4 linked regions of the Homo sapiens genome follow. The protein of the gene in region 3 purifies or fractionates together with the protein of the main gene of each other region. This does not show direct contact. Each region holds a gene or a part of one and is shown on either strand. Other genes may lie near its edges.

What was found.
Region 1: the proteins of DGKG (region 3) and ZC2HC1A purify together in Homo sapiens (affinity purification with mass spectrometry; one large-scale study listed by BioGRID and IntAct). This does not show direct contact.
Region 2: the proteins of DGKG (region 3) and FBXW8 purify together in Homo sapiens (affinity purification with mass spectrometry; one large-scale study listed by BioGRID and IntAct). This does not show direct contact.
Region 4: the proteins of DGKG (region 3) and DHTKD1 purify together in Homo sapiens (affinity purification with mass spectrometry; one large-scale study listed by BioGRID and IntAct). This does not show direct contact.

Annotation. Positions count from the first base shown.
Region 1 is NC_000008.11:78,711,089-78,714,741, forward strand, and holds part of ZC2HC1A (zinc finger C2HC domain-containing protein 1A), read left to right. Parts: intron 1-901; coding exon of another isoform or gene 902-1,018; intron 1,019-3,538; exon of another isoform or gene 3,539-3,611; intron 3,612-3,653.
Region 2 is NC_000012.12:116,913,950-116,917,602, reverse strand, and holds part of FBXW8 (F-box/WD repeat-containing protein 8), read right to left. Parts: intron 1-3,653. UniProt on the Homo sapiens protein: Substrate-recognition component of the Cul7-RING(FBXW8) ubiquitin ligase complex, which mediates the ubiquitination and subsequent proteasomal degradation of target proteins.
Region 3 is NC_000003.12:186,278,725-186,282,377, reverse strand, and holds part of DGKG (diacylglycerol kinase gamma), read left to right. Parts: intron 1-1,633; coding exon 1,634-1,708; intron 1,709-2,404; coding exon 2,405-2,527; intron 2,528-3,653. UniProt on the Homo sapiens protein: Diacylglycerol kinase that converts diacylglycerol/DAG into phosphatidic acid/phosphatidate/PA and regulates the respective levels of these two bioactive lipids.
Region 4 is NC_000010.11:12,096,454-12,100,106, reverse strand, and holds part of DHTKD1 (2-oxoadipate dehydrogenase complex component E1), read right to left. Parts: intron 2,424-3,653; coding exon 2,111-2,423; intron 1-2,110. UniProt on the Homo sapiens protein: 2-oxoadipate dehydrogenase (E1a) component of the 2-oxoadipate dehydrogenase complex (OADHC). Participates in the first step, rate limiting for the overall conversion of 2-oxoadipate (alpha-ketoadipate) to glutaryl-CoA and CO(2) catalyzed by the whole OADHC.

The DNA of each region.
Region 1 (3,653 bases), on a different chromosome or scaffold from region 3:
ATAGTCAGTGAATAAGTAAAGAAATGAGTGAGCAAATATCTCTTAAAAAGAACAGACTTTTAAAGTTAACAAGCAGTGATGTGTTATTCAGTAGCAAATAAGATTGTTTCCTAATGTCATAATTCAATTTTCCCTGCTTCCTACTATGACTAGATGTTGGTTGGTGATAGTTTATATGATTCAGTTATTTGGTTGGTTGATTTAAAACAGTGAAATATCCTACAAACCTGCAGTTTGTCCTGCTATCCTCTAGATGGAGAGCCTTTATAATTTTGGTCAAAATGTGTGTGTGTATATATAGGCCCCTTACCATTATTATATGTGATTTTTAGAATTGTCATCCATGTTTTTTTTTTCCATGCCGAGTCCTGTTTTACTTTGGATACATTTCAGAAATAAAGTCACTTTTTTGTTAGAAGTCAGTGGAGTTAGAAAGTCAAATGGAGTACATGTTATTTAGTCAATTCCTTATTTTTGGAATTTTAAAAAGCACGGAAATAAATAATATGAAGAGTAGAGAAAGTTTCCATGAATTCTGGGAGGAAGAAAAATCATTTGTGAATAACAGCATTCAGTTCACTTATAGCTTCATGATTTTTTTTTTGAAATAGTTGTTCTTCCTAAGTTTCTTCATTGATTCCATTGCCCTGCTGTGTATAATTTGACATTTGTTTGGATGTGTAGGGTAGCCTGTGTAGTCAGAATTTTCAGACCTAATAATGGACATTGTATGAACTCTCTGAGGATTCTTTTGGACATTAGTTCTTACCTTGACAGTCAGATAAAATTAAGGACTTGGGGAGTAGATATCTGATGAACCAGAATAATGTCTTTTAAAAAAACTTTATATAAAGAAGCAGTAGCAATCTCCTTATGGGTACACCTTTATATATTTTAATAGTAATATGGACAAGTTAGGCCCTCCACTTCGAACGGGAAGACTTGTGCAAAGGTTGTATGACAGTGATACAAAATCAGACAGTGCCATCAAAAGACATGAGTTATTACCTATTTACAAGTAAGTATTTGTAACTCAGTTTGGTTAATATTTTTCAGATATTTCCTTAAAAGCTTTATATAATGGAATAACATAACTTTTACTGTCCTATACTTAAAAAAATCTGTTGAATAATTTCTAAGCCAAAATGTGTCAAATAATCTAGGATTTAAAACATTTTGATTTTTAGTAAGCATTTCTGTTGTACTAAATAAAACTTTTTAGGTTATACATTTTATTCCATTAAATATTAATTTTTTGAGGTTTCAAATTGCAGTCACATTTAATAATTATTTTTATGAAGTTTTTTTTAGTAGTAATTAGGGTTTTTTGTAATAGTAGTTTTAAAAAGCAGAGTTTGAGAAAAATAATGTCTTGTACAGTATATAATATTGTTAGATTATCTCTTAGATAAGCCGATGGTGAACTATTATAAAAAGCCCAGAAAAAGAAAAGATTTTAGGAAACTTTCAATCCAAGGGTCCTTAGTCTTTTTGTTAGATGGTTGTAAATTCTGCCTACAACCGGGAAAAAGTATGACACTGCCAAAGAGTCAAGCTCGAGGAAGAGTATGACACAGCCAGTTCTGACCTGGCTGGCTGAAAAGAGTGTGTGGCAATGGCAGTTACTTTGAAACTCTACAGCATGAGTCTTCAAGGTTTACTAATTTGGGTCTCAATTCTAGCCCACATTTTAAATATGAAATTAGGGCCTAAAAATTAATATACCTATTAATGGTGGAAAATATTAAGCAGAGTAACTTAGTTAACTTTTAAACCAACACCTACTACAACAGTCTGCTCAGTATGTATGTATGAAAAGTAATAATAAATTTAACTAGATAAACAAAGGTAGGAGAAGTCTTTAAGATACTAGCAGCAGCCATTTGCTATTTTTAAGTAGTGATAAATCCTAGCAGGAAGAGTTTGTGCTGTGAGCCGTTTTTCATTTTGCTGATTCTACTGTCAGAACTCTCTGATGCAGATCTCACAGTAACAGTGACTAGCAGTAAGATGGATTAAGTACAATTCCAAAATTAAACCTTCTTTAATTATTCATATGAGCTGTTAACAGGTAGATTCTAGATACAGAGTAAGAGTAATGCTTTGCAGATTCTGAACAGAAAGAAAAATTTGTGGACTGTGTAAGACTGGGGCAAGATGTTTTAAGTGATCAAGGCCATTCTAGATGTTACTAAAAATAAATGACAGGTATTTAATATTGGTAGCTATTAATGATGATAATCTCTTATATTTTCCTCTAAATATAAACATTTTGAACAACCTCAAGTTACCGATATGGTGACATTATGTGTATATATTCATGGGTGTGTTTGTATTGTTTGTATATCTCATGCACTTAAGACGATTCTATAGCCAAAAAAAAAAAAAGTGTTCTTCCTATTTAAAGTCCATTCTTTGACAATGATTTCCTAAAGATTGAATTTCTAGAAAAAGACTCTAGTAGTTCTACAACATCCCCAAAGAGGCTATACACAAGAGTAGAGTAAACCTCATGAATGGACTTGGAGTGAGCATTTGAAGAGGTGCAGGGCATTCCATTCATGCACCAAAGTGATTCTTTGCTTGTTGAAGTTTAGAAGTAATTTAAAGAAGTAACTATGCAAAGCAACCACTTTGAATGACAGCATTGTGTATTGAATATGAGTTCTGTAATACAGCCCACTTAAGTTCAAGTACTACTCTGGCCACGTAGTAGCCTCACAATTTATATAATCTCTTTGAACATGCTTCCACTTTAAAATGGGAATAATATCTTCTGAGATTTGGGGGACATTAAATAAGGCATGTGTAGTATCTGGCTTCATAATTGTCATGTAGTGGCTGTTTGAAAAATAGTGGATGTTGTTATTACCTGCATGTACTTTGGAAGCAGCTATTTACAATTTTAGGGTACTCTCTCCTACTTTGCCATATAAGTAGAGTAAGAAAAATTTCAACTAAAGTTTAAGAACCTCTAATCTGGAGGTATTTTTTAAAGTATTCTGCTGTTCATATAACACTGTTCACCTGTGAAATTTAAAGATTTGATTAAAGCTCTATAGAGAGGGAGGGAACTATGCTTCAATGAACATCTAAATCCTAGCTTTGGAACACACTAGCAGGGTCACCTTGGGTAAGTTACTTAGGGGCTCTTTACCTCATTTGTCTTATCTGTAAATGGAGTTATGAACGCTACCTATTTCATAGGATTATTAGGATAAATAAATTTCTATGGGCAAAATAATTAGAATTGTACTTGACATGGAGTAAGCACTATTATATAAATGTTAACTTATAGTGGCAACAACAGTAGTAATAGTATTAGCATCAGCTATCTAAATGTTTATATGAATTGTACTTTTTTTCTCATAACCTTTCTATAAGTGATCATTTTATAAATGATGAGACTCAGACTTGCTGTCACAAAGCTGTCAGTAGCATTAGCATTTGAATCTAAATTCATTTGAATTCCCAAGCCTCTGCTTTTAGTGTTATATCATCATCATTTAGTTTTCTAACCCTTCTTTGATTCTTAAAGTTTCAAAATGGAGACTCATGGATGATCCAACCAGAAGTCCCTCTGATTTCGGATAGCCCAGGCTGTGCAGTTGGTAAAATTAAATCTTTAAAGGGAATATTATATTAACTCATTT
Region 2 (3,653 bases), on a different chromosome or scaffold from region 3:
TCACTTTTGATTGCTAACTTATTAGTTGTTCTCTCTCTAGTGATGGATACTGAAGACTCTGAAGTGGAGGAGACTGCACCAGAAATACAACAGGGTGCACTAATGAAAGTGCCAAAGGTTGGAGAAGAAACGGGGGCAGGGAGGAAGTGTAAGAAGGTAGTACCAGATTTTATTTCCCATTCATGTCAAGTGGATCAGCTTCTGTTAAAGATTCTAGGGAGTCTCAAATGGAACTAACTCTTCCTTTCAGGAGCCACCCATGGATCAAGCAAGGATTCTTGGGAAGGCACAAGGCAAAGATGATAAAATGGTTACCCAAGGCAGATCTAGCCCACTGACAGGTTTTGTTTAACCTGCAATGTTAGCACCTAAAATCTTATTAATTTTTATTAGTTACCAACAATTAAAAATTGGAAGAGCTTTTGAGGTAGACTGACATAGTGATGGCCCCAAATTTGTTCATGTCTCTCTGTATCCAAGCACTTGGGTAAATCCACACTGACTCTGGACTTGGCCACATGAGAATAACAAACATGACCTATGCAGACTTCAAAAGCACCATTGCATCTGGCCACTGGGGCTCGCCCTCTTGCTGCTCTTGTAACTCTGAGAATGCCCACTTGGGGCTAAGCTAAGCTGCTGTATGATGACTCATAACCCAGATACACACCTCTTTCTCTCTCTCTCTCTCACACACACACACACACACACACGCACAATTAGCCAACCCCTAGAAGCAGAGCAGCCTAGGTGACCACAGCTAACCTCAGACACACGAGTGAGCTCACCCATGCCCAGCCCAAGCTGCCACCCTGCAAAATGGTGAGCTAAATCGTGGTTGTTTTAAGCCAACGTTTTGGATGGTGTTTTTAAGTGAGACAGAATCTATTTTGCCCAGGCTGGTCTCAAACTCCTGGGCTAAGGTGATCCTCCTGCCTCAACTCCCCCAGCAGCTGGGAGTACAGGCATGTGCCACCATGCCCAGCTTGGATGGTTTTCTCATGCAGAAAAAACTGAAGGAGTCCACATAAAAATACATATTCCCAATTAAAAAAAAAAATCTAAAGACCTTACAACACTGGGACCACATTCCTACAGGGCAACAACCAGCTAATGGGGGCAGTGGTTATTACCCTGACCCCAGCCATGGCATGTATTTCCCAATGTGTCTTTATCATCTTGCCCATGCTGGGGTCAAGTTCTGCTGTCATGTCATCTCAGCTGGGTGTTGATTTATGGTAAAGAAGAAAGTGAAATACTACATTCCACATACACAAGTTACTATCAAAAGTGAGAAAACCAGTACAACTACTTTGGAAAACTGTCAGTATCTACCAAGGCTAATCTATGCATACCTTATGACTCACCAATTCCACTCCCAAATGAATACTCAGGAAAAATGTGGACACATTTTTCAGAAGATGTACAAAACATTTATGGTGGCACTATATCTGAGAGTCCCAAACTGGCTATCAACAAACTAGCAACAATTCCCATCAACAGTAGATAAGATGTGGCATATTCATAGGGATCAATCTCACAGATAATGCCATACACGAGAACTCAAAGACACATGAGTATGTGCTGTTTGACTCCACTTAATATACAGTTCAAAAACAAACAAACTAAATGTGGTGTTAGAAGTCAGGTGAGGCCAGGCATGCAGGCTCACACCTGTAGTTCCAGCACTTCGGGAGGCCGAGGCGGGCAGATCACAAGGCCAGGAGTTCAAAACCAGCCTGGCCAACATAGTGAAACCCCATCTCTACCAAAGATACAAAAATGAGCAGGCCGTGGTGGTGCATGCCTGTAGTCACAGCTACTAAGGAGGCTGAGGCACAAGAATCACTTGAACCCGGGAAGTCAGGGTTGCAGTGAGCCAAGATCATGCCACCGCACTCCAGCCTAGGTTACAGGGTAAGACTCTATCTCCCAAAAAAAAAAAAAAAAAAAAAAAAAAAAGTAGTCAGGTGAGTGGTTACCCTTGGGTGGAAGAGAAGTCAGGTGAGTGGTTACCCCTGGGTGGAAGAGAAGTCAGGTGAGTGGTTACCCTTGGGTGGAAGGGAACACAGGGCAGGGGAGGTGGTTCTGACATGCTGGTGATGCTGCCCTGTGACCTGGCTGCTGTTTACATGGATGTGTACACTTGAAAATTCATCAAGCTGTGTATTTAGGCCCTTGTAAAGGTCAATACATAGTTTGAGCTTAAAAACTTTTAAAAGTGGGAAAACAAGACCAAGATGGCCATGTTTAAAGACAATTCCTACATGTTTAATTGTGACAAAAAGAACAGCTGCCACTATGAAACGAATTATAAAGCTATGACCAGAACACATAAAAACACCTGATGAGCTGGGAGAAAAGACCTAATGTGCAACACCCAGCCTACCTCACTCACGTGCATTACCTGCCTTAGCCCTGTGGGCTCTGGGGCTTGCAACCACTGACACAGGAATCCAAGCCTTTTCCATAAACCTTGTCATCATTTATCAGCCTGGAGAGAAGGAGTAGGTTTATTATCTAAAAATCAGTTACTTTCCTAATGCTCATCTACAGATTAGTTGAAAATAGCCACTGGAGAGAGTTGTTGGGAGAAATGAAGACGATAATGTCTCTAAACCCTTAAGACAGTACCAAGGAGACAGTTTACGCACACAATGAATTATAACTTTATTTATAGCAGTGTTACTAATGATTGCAAAGTCTTGTTTTCATTTTTTATTTTTTGAGATGGAATTTTGCTCTTGTTGCCCAGACTGGAGTGCAATGGCACGATCTCGGCTCACCACAACCTCCGCCTCCTGGGTTCAAGAGATTCTCCTGCCTCAGCCTCCTGAGTAGCTGGGATTACAGGCACCCACCACCATGCCTGGCTAATTTTGTATTTTTAGTAGAGACAGAGTTTCTCCTTGTTGGTTAGGCTGGTCTCGAACTCCTGACCTCAGGTGATCTGCCCACCTCAGCCTCCCAAAGTGCTGGGATTACAGGTATGAGCCACCAGGCCCAGCCTTTTTTTTTTTTTTTTTTTTTGAGACAGGGTTTCGCTCTGTCACCTAGGCCGGAGTGCAGTGGTGTGATCCCGGCTCACTGCATCCTCGACCTCCTGGCCTCAATCAATCCTCCCACATCAGCCTCCCAGGTAGTGAGGACTACAGGAACATGCCACCACGCTGGCCAATTTTTGTAGAGATGGGGTTTCTCTACGTTGCCCAGGTTGGTTTTGAGCTCCTGAGCTCAAGAGATCCATCCACCCACCTCAGCCTCCCAAAGTGCTAGGATTACAGGCATGAGCCACCTTGCCCAGCCACAAAGTTTGCTTTTTGCCTGCTTTTGACAGGGTCTTGCTGTGTCACCCAGGCTGGAGTGCAGTGGTGCAATCATGGCTCACTGCAGCCTCAGCCTCCTGGGTTCAAGCGATCCTCCCACCTCAGCCTCCCAAGTAGCTAGAACTAAAGGGGTGCACCACCACACCTAGCTAAATTTTTTAAATTTTTTGTAGAACCAGGGTTTCACTATGTTGCCCAGGCTGGTCTTGAACTCCTGGGCTCAAGCAATCCTCCTGGCTTGGCCTCCAAAGTGGTGGGATTACAGGTGTGTACCACCACACCTGGCCTACAAAGTCCTCTTTAAAATTAGAGGTGCCCCAAAAGTTG
Region 3 (3,653 bases):
TGATTCAACCTTTCACCGGAATCCCTGTCATATGGACTCCTACCTTAAGACAGCCATTCCACTGCTGGGGGTGACTGCTGGAGAGGGCTTCCTTCTCGAACACAGGCACTCCTCTTTGTGGTGGGGAATCGTTTTCAACTCAAAACCTGCTTCTGCTCCCCTTCTCCCCCAATCCAACAGGGAGGCCAAAATAAGCCAGTCCTCAACTCCTTCCTTCCCTGCATCCCTCTCTGCTTCCTTCTGTCCCCCATACCTGGCCAGGACAAATGGAATACCTATCCCATACAATAGGCCTTCGAGTATTTGAAGGTGCTATCACATCTCCCCTAAAATCTTCTCCAAGCTAAAATTTCTCTATTCCTACACTGGTTCTCATAAGGCAGGCTTAAATATCCACTTTGGACAAGCTCTGGTTTGTAAATGCCATTCCTGGAATGTGGCACAGAACAGAATCCGTCCCCTATGATTCTTTAAGTATCCAAATGTGGCCTGACCAGGAAGACCTCAGGGGAACTTTTTCTTTTTTAAATCTGCCAACTCTGCTTCTATTTTCATAGCCCAAGACTGAGTCCAATTCTTGGTTCCTGAAATACGTTTTCTCTTTAAATCTTGGACCCAACCAGAGATTCACAAGCTCTTTTCTTTTGGAACTTCTGCCAAAACCTTTCCCCACCTTTGTGCCCACTTTCTTACCCTCATCTACTGGCCTATCCTGTAGTTTTGCAATGGATTGTTTTTTAACTTAAATAAAATACAATTTTTTAAAATCCCTGCTGGGTTTTAGCTTGCTATTTGGACCCGGCATTCTATCTGGCAGAGGTAACACTTTTGAACCTTGCTTCAGTCTACCAACATGTCCTCCCAAAGCAATCTTACTGTGAACATCTTAACTGGTGCCTAAATGGTGCTAACTTTGACACCAAATGCCTCTTCAGTCTGGTGTGTTTCAGCGGGGCTCTCAGAACACTGACTCATTGGCAGCCAACAATTCTGTGAGGTTTTAGATGGAGCCTGGCCTCAGTACCAAAAGGCTCAGTCATCAAGTAAACATATTCCTCATGAGTTTCCTGTTCACGGACTCCTGGGGGCTGGGCTAAGGGCTGGACCATGGTAAAAAGGAAACAGAGGAGATAACAAAAGGAATCAAAATCATGGTACCTGAGCTGAGACACACACAGTAACCCTCCATGCAAGAGAAACTGGCCTCGAGCTGAGAGATGGATCCCAAGTTGCTACAGCTGTGGGGATGAGTGATAAGAAGTGACAGGAGAAATCTGCCTTGATTTGTAAGTATTTGTGGAAGCTATAATCACAAAGAGGGATAAAAATAGGAGTGCTTTCTATGCTTTCCAAGTTAAAGCACAGAATAAGGGAAGGAAGGTGGGTCCAGGAGGAAGTCAGTGTTTATGAGCTTTTTGCATACCTCCAGCTTATGCATGCTCTGTGCTTCTCGTGAGCTTTGTGGTCGAGACAGAAATAAACTGAGCTCCTCACAAAATGGCAGTTACTGCACCAGCTTCTTCTCTTGCCCTGCCCTGTCCCTCTTCCCACTGGGCTTAATTTTGAGTTCGGCTCTTAATGACACATCTCTGGTTGTCTCCTTTTGATATTTTCTCCCTTTGCTATTTTCTAGGAGATGGATTGCATTGTCAACCAAATGCTGCATATTGCCCAGTACCTGGAGTGGGATCCCACAGAGCTGAGGCCTGTGAGTTTCTATAAGGATGGGGTGGCTTTGGAGTGAGCTTCTAAGACGGGAGGGGGACACACTCAAGACATGAATGAGTGTTAACCCTGCAGGTGCTCCCAGACTCATCTTCTTATAGGCAGCTTCTTTGGAGTCCTGCACTTTACCTCCTACCTCTCTGATAGGAAAAATGTAGGCAGCAGGAAAACGTGCAGACATAACTGAAATAACCATGCTAATCTTTTCACCAGAACTAAAATGTTATAGCAGAAATTCATCAGTCAAAGAATTTAGAGAGAACTGTAGAGATTTCTATTAGAAAGAATTGTAGAGATCTTCCTCAATCACCAGATAATATGAATTATAAGAATAATTACATTTGGGGGCTCCTATGTGTCAGGTATTTTGTTATTCACTTTACATTCATTTTCTCTAATCCCTGCTACAGTGCCACAAACACAACAATATTATTTCCATTTTTACAGATAAGCAAACCAGAGCCCACAGAGTCAGGGTGACTGGCCCAAGGCCCAAGGGCAGAGCCAGACCTGGAAGCCTGGCCTCCTCACTCCCAGTCTGCTCTATTCACACTTAACAGGAGGGGAAAGGGGTAAAACACAAACCAGATAATGCAAGATGAACAAGACAGCAGAGGCAGAAGGCAGGTAGACATGTCGATGATGAAAATGGACAATGATTGCTCTTTGGATTCCACAGATATTGAAGGAGATGCTGCAAGGGATGGACTACGACCGGGACGGCTTTGTGTCTCTACAGGAATGGGTCCATGGAGGGATGACCACCATCCCATTGCTGGTCCTCCTGGGGATGGATGACTCTGTAAGTCAACAAGCTGGAGTTCAGAGATCTCTTGCCATTCAGGAACATTGGGCTTCATGTTAATATCAACATATCACTTTGGCTTCTGCTCCAGACTGCCCAACAGACGTGCCATGACCAGCCCCAAAGTCCTCTCTATTTACATTATTTTGTATCCATTAGTGCCTGAAGTATATTCATTTGACAGACATTTACTACATTATTACTACTTTAAAAATACTGTTCTGCATGCTGTGAGGGAATACAGACACATTATCTGCCTGCAAGAACCTTATACTCAACCAGGCAAAGGGCCACAAACTTCAAAGAAGAATTCTGTCTTTTCAACAAATTAGGTTTAAAAATGCTAAGAGAATTGGGGAAGGAAGGGTGAGAGGAAAGAACGAAGGGAGAGAGGAAAAAATACGGATCTGTTGTGGGGGTGGCTTCCATTAGTGGTATCTTATTTAATAATCAAAACAACCAGATAAGGTAAATATTTTTATCCCAATTTATACAGATGGAAAACTGAGGTTCTGACCCTAAGGAGCAAAAGGAGGAGTGAGGATTTGTCTCTGACACCAAAGATGTTGCACTTTGTAATATCCCACACATGAGAGTTAGGCCAGTGGGAAGAAACCTTGGAAGGTGTTGACTTGTCCCTGAAGAATGCATGAGATTTTGATGTCCCATTCTTGAGAATAAAGAGCAGGTGGCCTTAAAGACCTAGAGAGAGTTTATGGCTTGGAGAACAGCTTGATTAAAAACACAAATGAAAGAAAGTTCTGGGTGTGTTAGGCAAATCTCCCATTTGATCAGAGTAGGGCATATGTGTACAGGCTTAATGTGAAACTGATTGTTATATATACCTTCATCTGACCCAGTTACTGTATTCTCCACCTATTTACCAAGTGAACTCACTTCCATGCATGAGGTAGGGAAGACTAAAACTAGTAGGAGCACAAATGGTGACATTAAGCGTTTACTAGTCACACCAGTTGTGTGACAACACTACTTTGAGATTACAGATCTCAAAGATTACACCTCTTTGAGACTATTCCATAGAGAGGAACAGGGCAGCAAGTGCAGCTGGGTGAGCCTCTAGCTGACCAAGTTGCCTATAATATCTTCATTTCATAGCTCTGCA
Region 4 (3,653 bases), on a different chromosome or scaffold from region 3:
AATTTAATGCAGGCCAGGCATGGTGGCTCATGCCTGTAATCCCAGCACTTTGGGAGGCCCAGGCGGGTGGATCACTTGAGGTAAGGAGTTCAAGACCAGCCTGGACAACATGGTGAAACTCCATCTCTACTAAAAATACAAAAATTAGCTAGGCCTGGTGGCGTGTCTCTATGATACCAGCTACTCAGGAAGCTGAGGCAGGGAGTCACTGGAACCTGAGAGGCGGAGGTTGCAGTGAGCTGAGATGGCTCCACTACACTACAGCCTGGGCGACAGAGCAAGACTTGATCTCAAAAAAAAAAAAAAAAAAAAAGCAACGAAATTAAGCATCAAAAACAATGCTGAATAAAAACAGAGTACAAAAGGATACATTAGAGAAGGAGAGCAATTATATACAGTTTTTATTTATTTATTTTTTTCTGAGGCAGTCTCACTCTGTCACGCAGGCTAGAGTGCAGTGGCGTGATCTTGGCTGATTGCAACCTCAGCCTCCCTGGTTCAAGTGATTCTCCTGCCTCAGCCTCCTAAGTAGCTGGGACTATGGGTGCACACCACCACGCCCAGCTAATTTTTGTACTTTTTAGTGGAGAAGGGGTTTCGCCATGTTGGTCAGACTGGTCTTGAACCCCTGAACTCAAATAATCTGCCCGGCTTGGCCTCCCAAAGTTCTCAGATTACAGGAGTGAGCCACCACACCCGGCCTATATACAATTTTAAAACAGGCAAAACAAACACGTGCTTAGGTTAGTGGTTACCTCTGCGGAGGTGGGAGGAGATGGATCAAGGAGGGGTATGTGGGGAACTGTATTTATAACATCCTATTTCCTAAGCTGAGTGATGAGTACATATTAATAGTTTGTTGTAATAGTCTCTGTACCTATAATAAAAACTTAAAGTTAGTGGGTTGGTTTTTTTTTTTTAATTTCCTCTTTTTGGAGAAACAGGATCTTATTCTGTCACCCAGGCTGGAGTACAGTGGTGCAATCTCAGCTCATTGCAGGCTCGACCTTCTGGGCTCAAGCAATCCTCCCACCTCAGCCTCCTGAGGAGCTGAGACTACAGGCATGCGCCACCATGCCAGGCAAATTTTTTAATCTTTACTAGCGATAAGGTCCACTATGTTGCCCAGGCTGGTCTTGAACTTCTAGGCTCAAGCAATCCTTCCACCTTGGCCTTCCAAAGCACTGGTATTACAGATAGGAGCCACCGTGCCTGGCCAAGTTAGTGTTTGAAAATAATTCATGTTAGGCATGGTGGCTCACACCTGTAAACCCAGCACTTTGGGAGGCCAAAGTGGATGGATCAATTGAGGTCAGGAGTTCAAGACCAACCTGGCCAACATGGTGAAAACCCATCTCTACTAAAAATACAAAAATTAGCTGGGCATGGTGGCACATGCCTGTAATCCCAGCTACTCAGGAGGCTGAGGCAGGAGAATCGTTTGAACCTGGGAGGTGGAGGTTGCAGTGAGCCGAGATCACGCCACTGCACACCAGCCTGGGTGACAGAGTGAGATTCCATCCAAAAATAACATAAAATAAAATAATTTAGAGGGCAAAGTTCCTTCATCCAAGCTTAAGAAAGAAAAAGACATTTAACTCTTTGCTCTCCTTGTTTTAGCACTTAAAGTCCCACATTCCAGAAAACCCCTAAGTCCCAGGTCCACCAGGGTGGTTTGTCATCCTATAGTGATCCTAAGACAATACGTAAAACATGAGCATGTTTAGGGGGCTACCTTGGGGTATGTGTGTTGACTTTTGTTTCTTTTATTTAAGCCACCTGAAACAAAGTGTTTTCTACTCACTGGTTGGAAAAATAAAAACAGACATTCTTGTATCTCTGTATTTCTTATAGTGTGCATGTATTCCAGGTACATGTAATGTATGAACATGCATAAATAAATAAATACATGGAGGAAAAAGAAAAGAAGAGAAAATCTGAGGTAACTGACTATCAGTACCAAAACAACACTAGGATCAGTTTCTAGAACCTAACGACACACAATAAATATTTGTCAAATGAATCAGACAACTGAAAACACCAGACCAACGTCAGCTCCTTTGCTGAGCAGGAAGGAGAAGCAATAACCAGCCATTTGGAGGCTGCCCACCTGAACATGTGTCTTCAGCAGGTGACTGTGCATCTGCAGCTCTCTTGGCACCTCTACAGACTTCATGCCAACAAACCGCAGGAGGTCGAGGGGCACACCTGTACTCCAGGTGGTGATTTGCGCTTCTGGCTGAGCCAGGCCCTGCCAGTGGGCCTGCAGGTTCAGGGCAGGGGGCCTGTAGTGGGCCATGTTATTTAAGTGATCATTCAACTTGGCATAGTAGGAGGATTTTATTTCAGACACCTCCTCCTGCGTCATGAGTCCGCCAGCAATGAGGTGCTCTGCATATGTGTCTGGAATGCTCTTTCGAGCTCTGCCCAAGAAAGAGAAGAAACAAAAATCAGTCTGACCTGTAACAATCTAATAGAGACAAGGAGAGTCACTGTCAAGGGCGGTGGAGTGTCAGCACTCTAAAAAGGCATTCGACAGGTGCAGTGGCTCACACCTACAATCTTAGCATTTTGGGAGGCCAAAGTGGGTGGATCACCTGAGGTCAGGAGTTCGGGACCAGCCTGGCCAACGTGGTGAAACCCTGTCTCTACTAAAAATACAAAAAATTAGCTTGGCATGGTGGCGGGCGCCTGTAATCCCAGCTACTCAGGAGGCTGAGGCAGGAGAATTGCTTGAACCTAAGTGGTAGAGGTTGCAGTGAGCCGAGATGGCACCACTGCACTCCAGCCTAGGCAACAAAAGTGAAACTCCGTCTCAAAAACCAAATAAATAAAATTAAAAATAAATAAAAATAAAATAAAAAGGCATTCAGGAAAAATGTTTTGGAACTTGACAGAAGTGATGGTTGCACCACTTTGTGAAGGTAAATAAATGCCACTGAGTTGTTCGCATTAAGACAGCCAATTTTATATTATGTCACGTTCATCTCAATAAGTTTATAAAACAGAAACAAAATAAATAAACAATGTTAAATATAATAAATTAATTTAATAAATGAAGGCACTCATAGTAACAACCTCTTTTCCAGGCAACTGAGAGAAAACAAATTTATAAGTTTTTGTCTGCATCCAAATAGAAATAATTAACAGAGTTTTTCTATGATTTGGTAAATTCTGACAATTATTTCCAAGACTGACCCACACTGTCTATCCAATCAGCACCCCCCTTTATCTAAAAAGGTATGGAACCCAAAGTTGCTCCAGTCTGAAAGTTGCAATCTTTCAGGTTGCATCTATCATCCTTTAACTACAATCATCAACACCTGGGTGTTACAATAAATGTCACTCTACATTCATGTCATACTTTCAACTATAAAGTCTATTCACATATATTATCATATTTAATCCTGATAAAAGAGAGAAGAAAGCAGGATAGATTTTAAAGCTAACGCCCTGGGGCCAGGTGAGGAGGCTCATGCCTGCAATCCCAGAACTTTGGGAGGCCGAGACGGGCAGATGGCGAGACCAGCTTGGGTAACGCTGTGAGACCCCATCTAGTCAGGCATAGTGGCAAGCGCCTGTAGTCCCAGGTTCTCAGGAGGTGGAGGCGGGAGGATCGCTTGAGCCCAGGAAGTCGAGGCTACAGTGAGCCG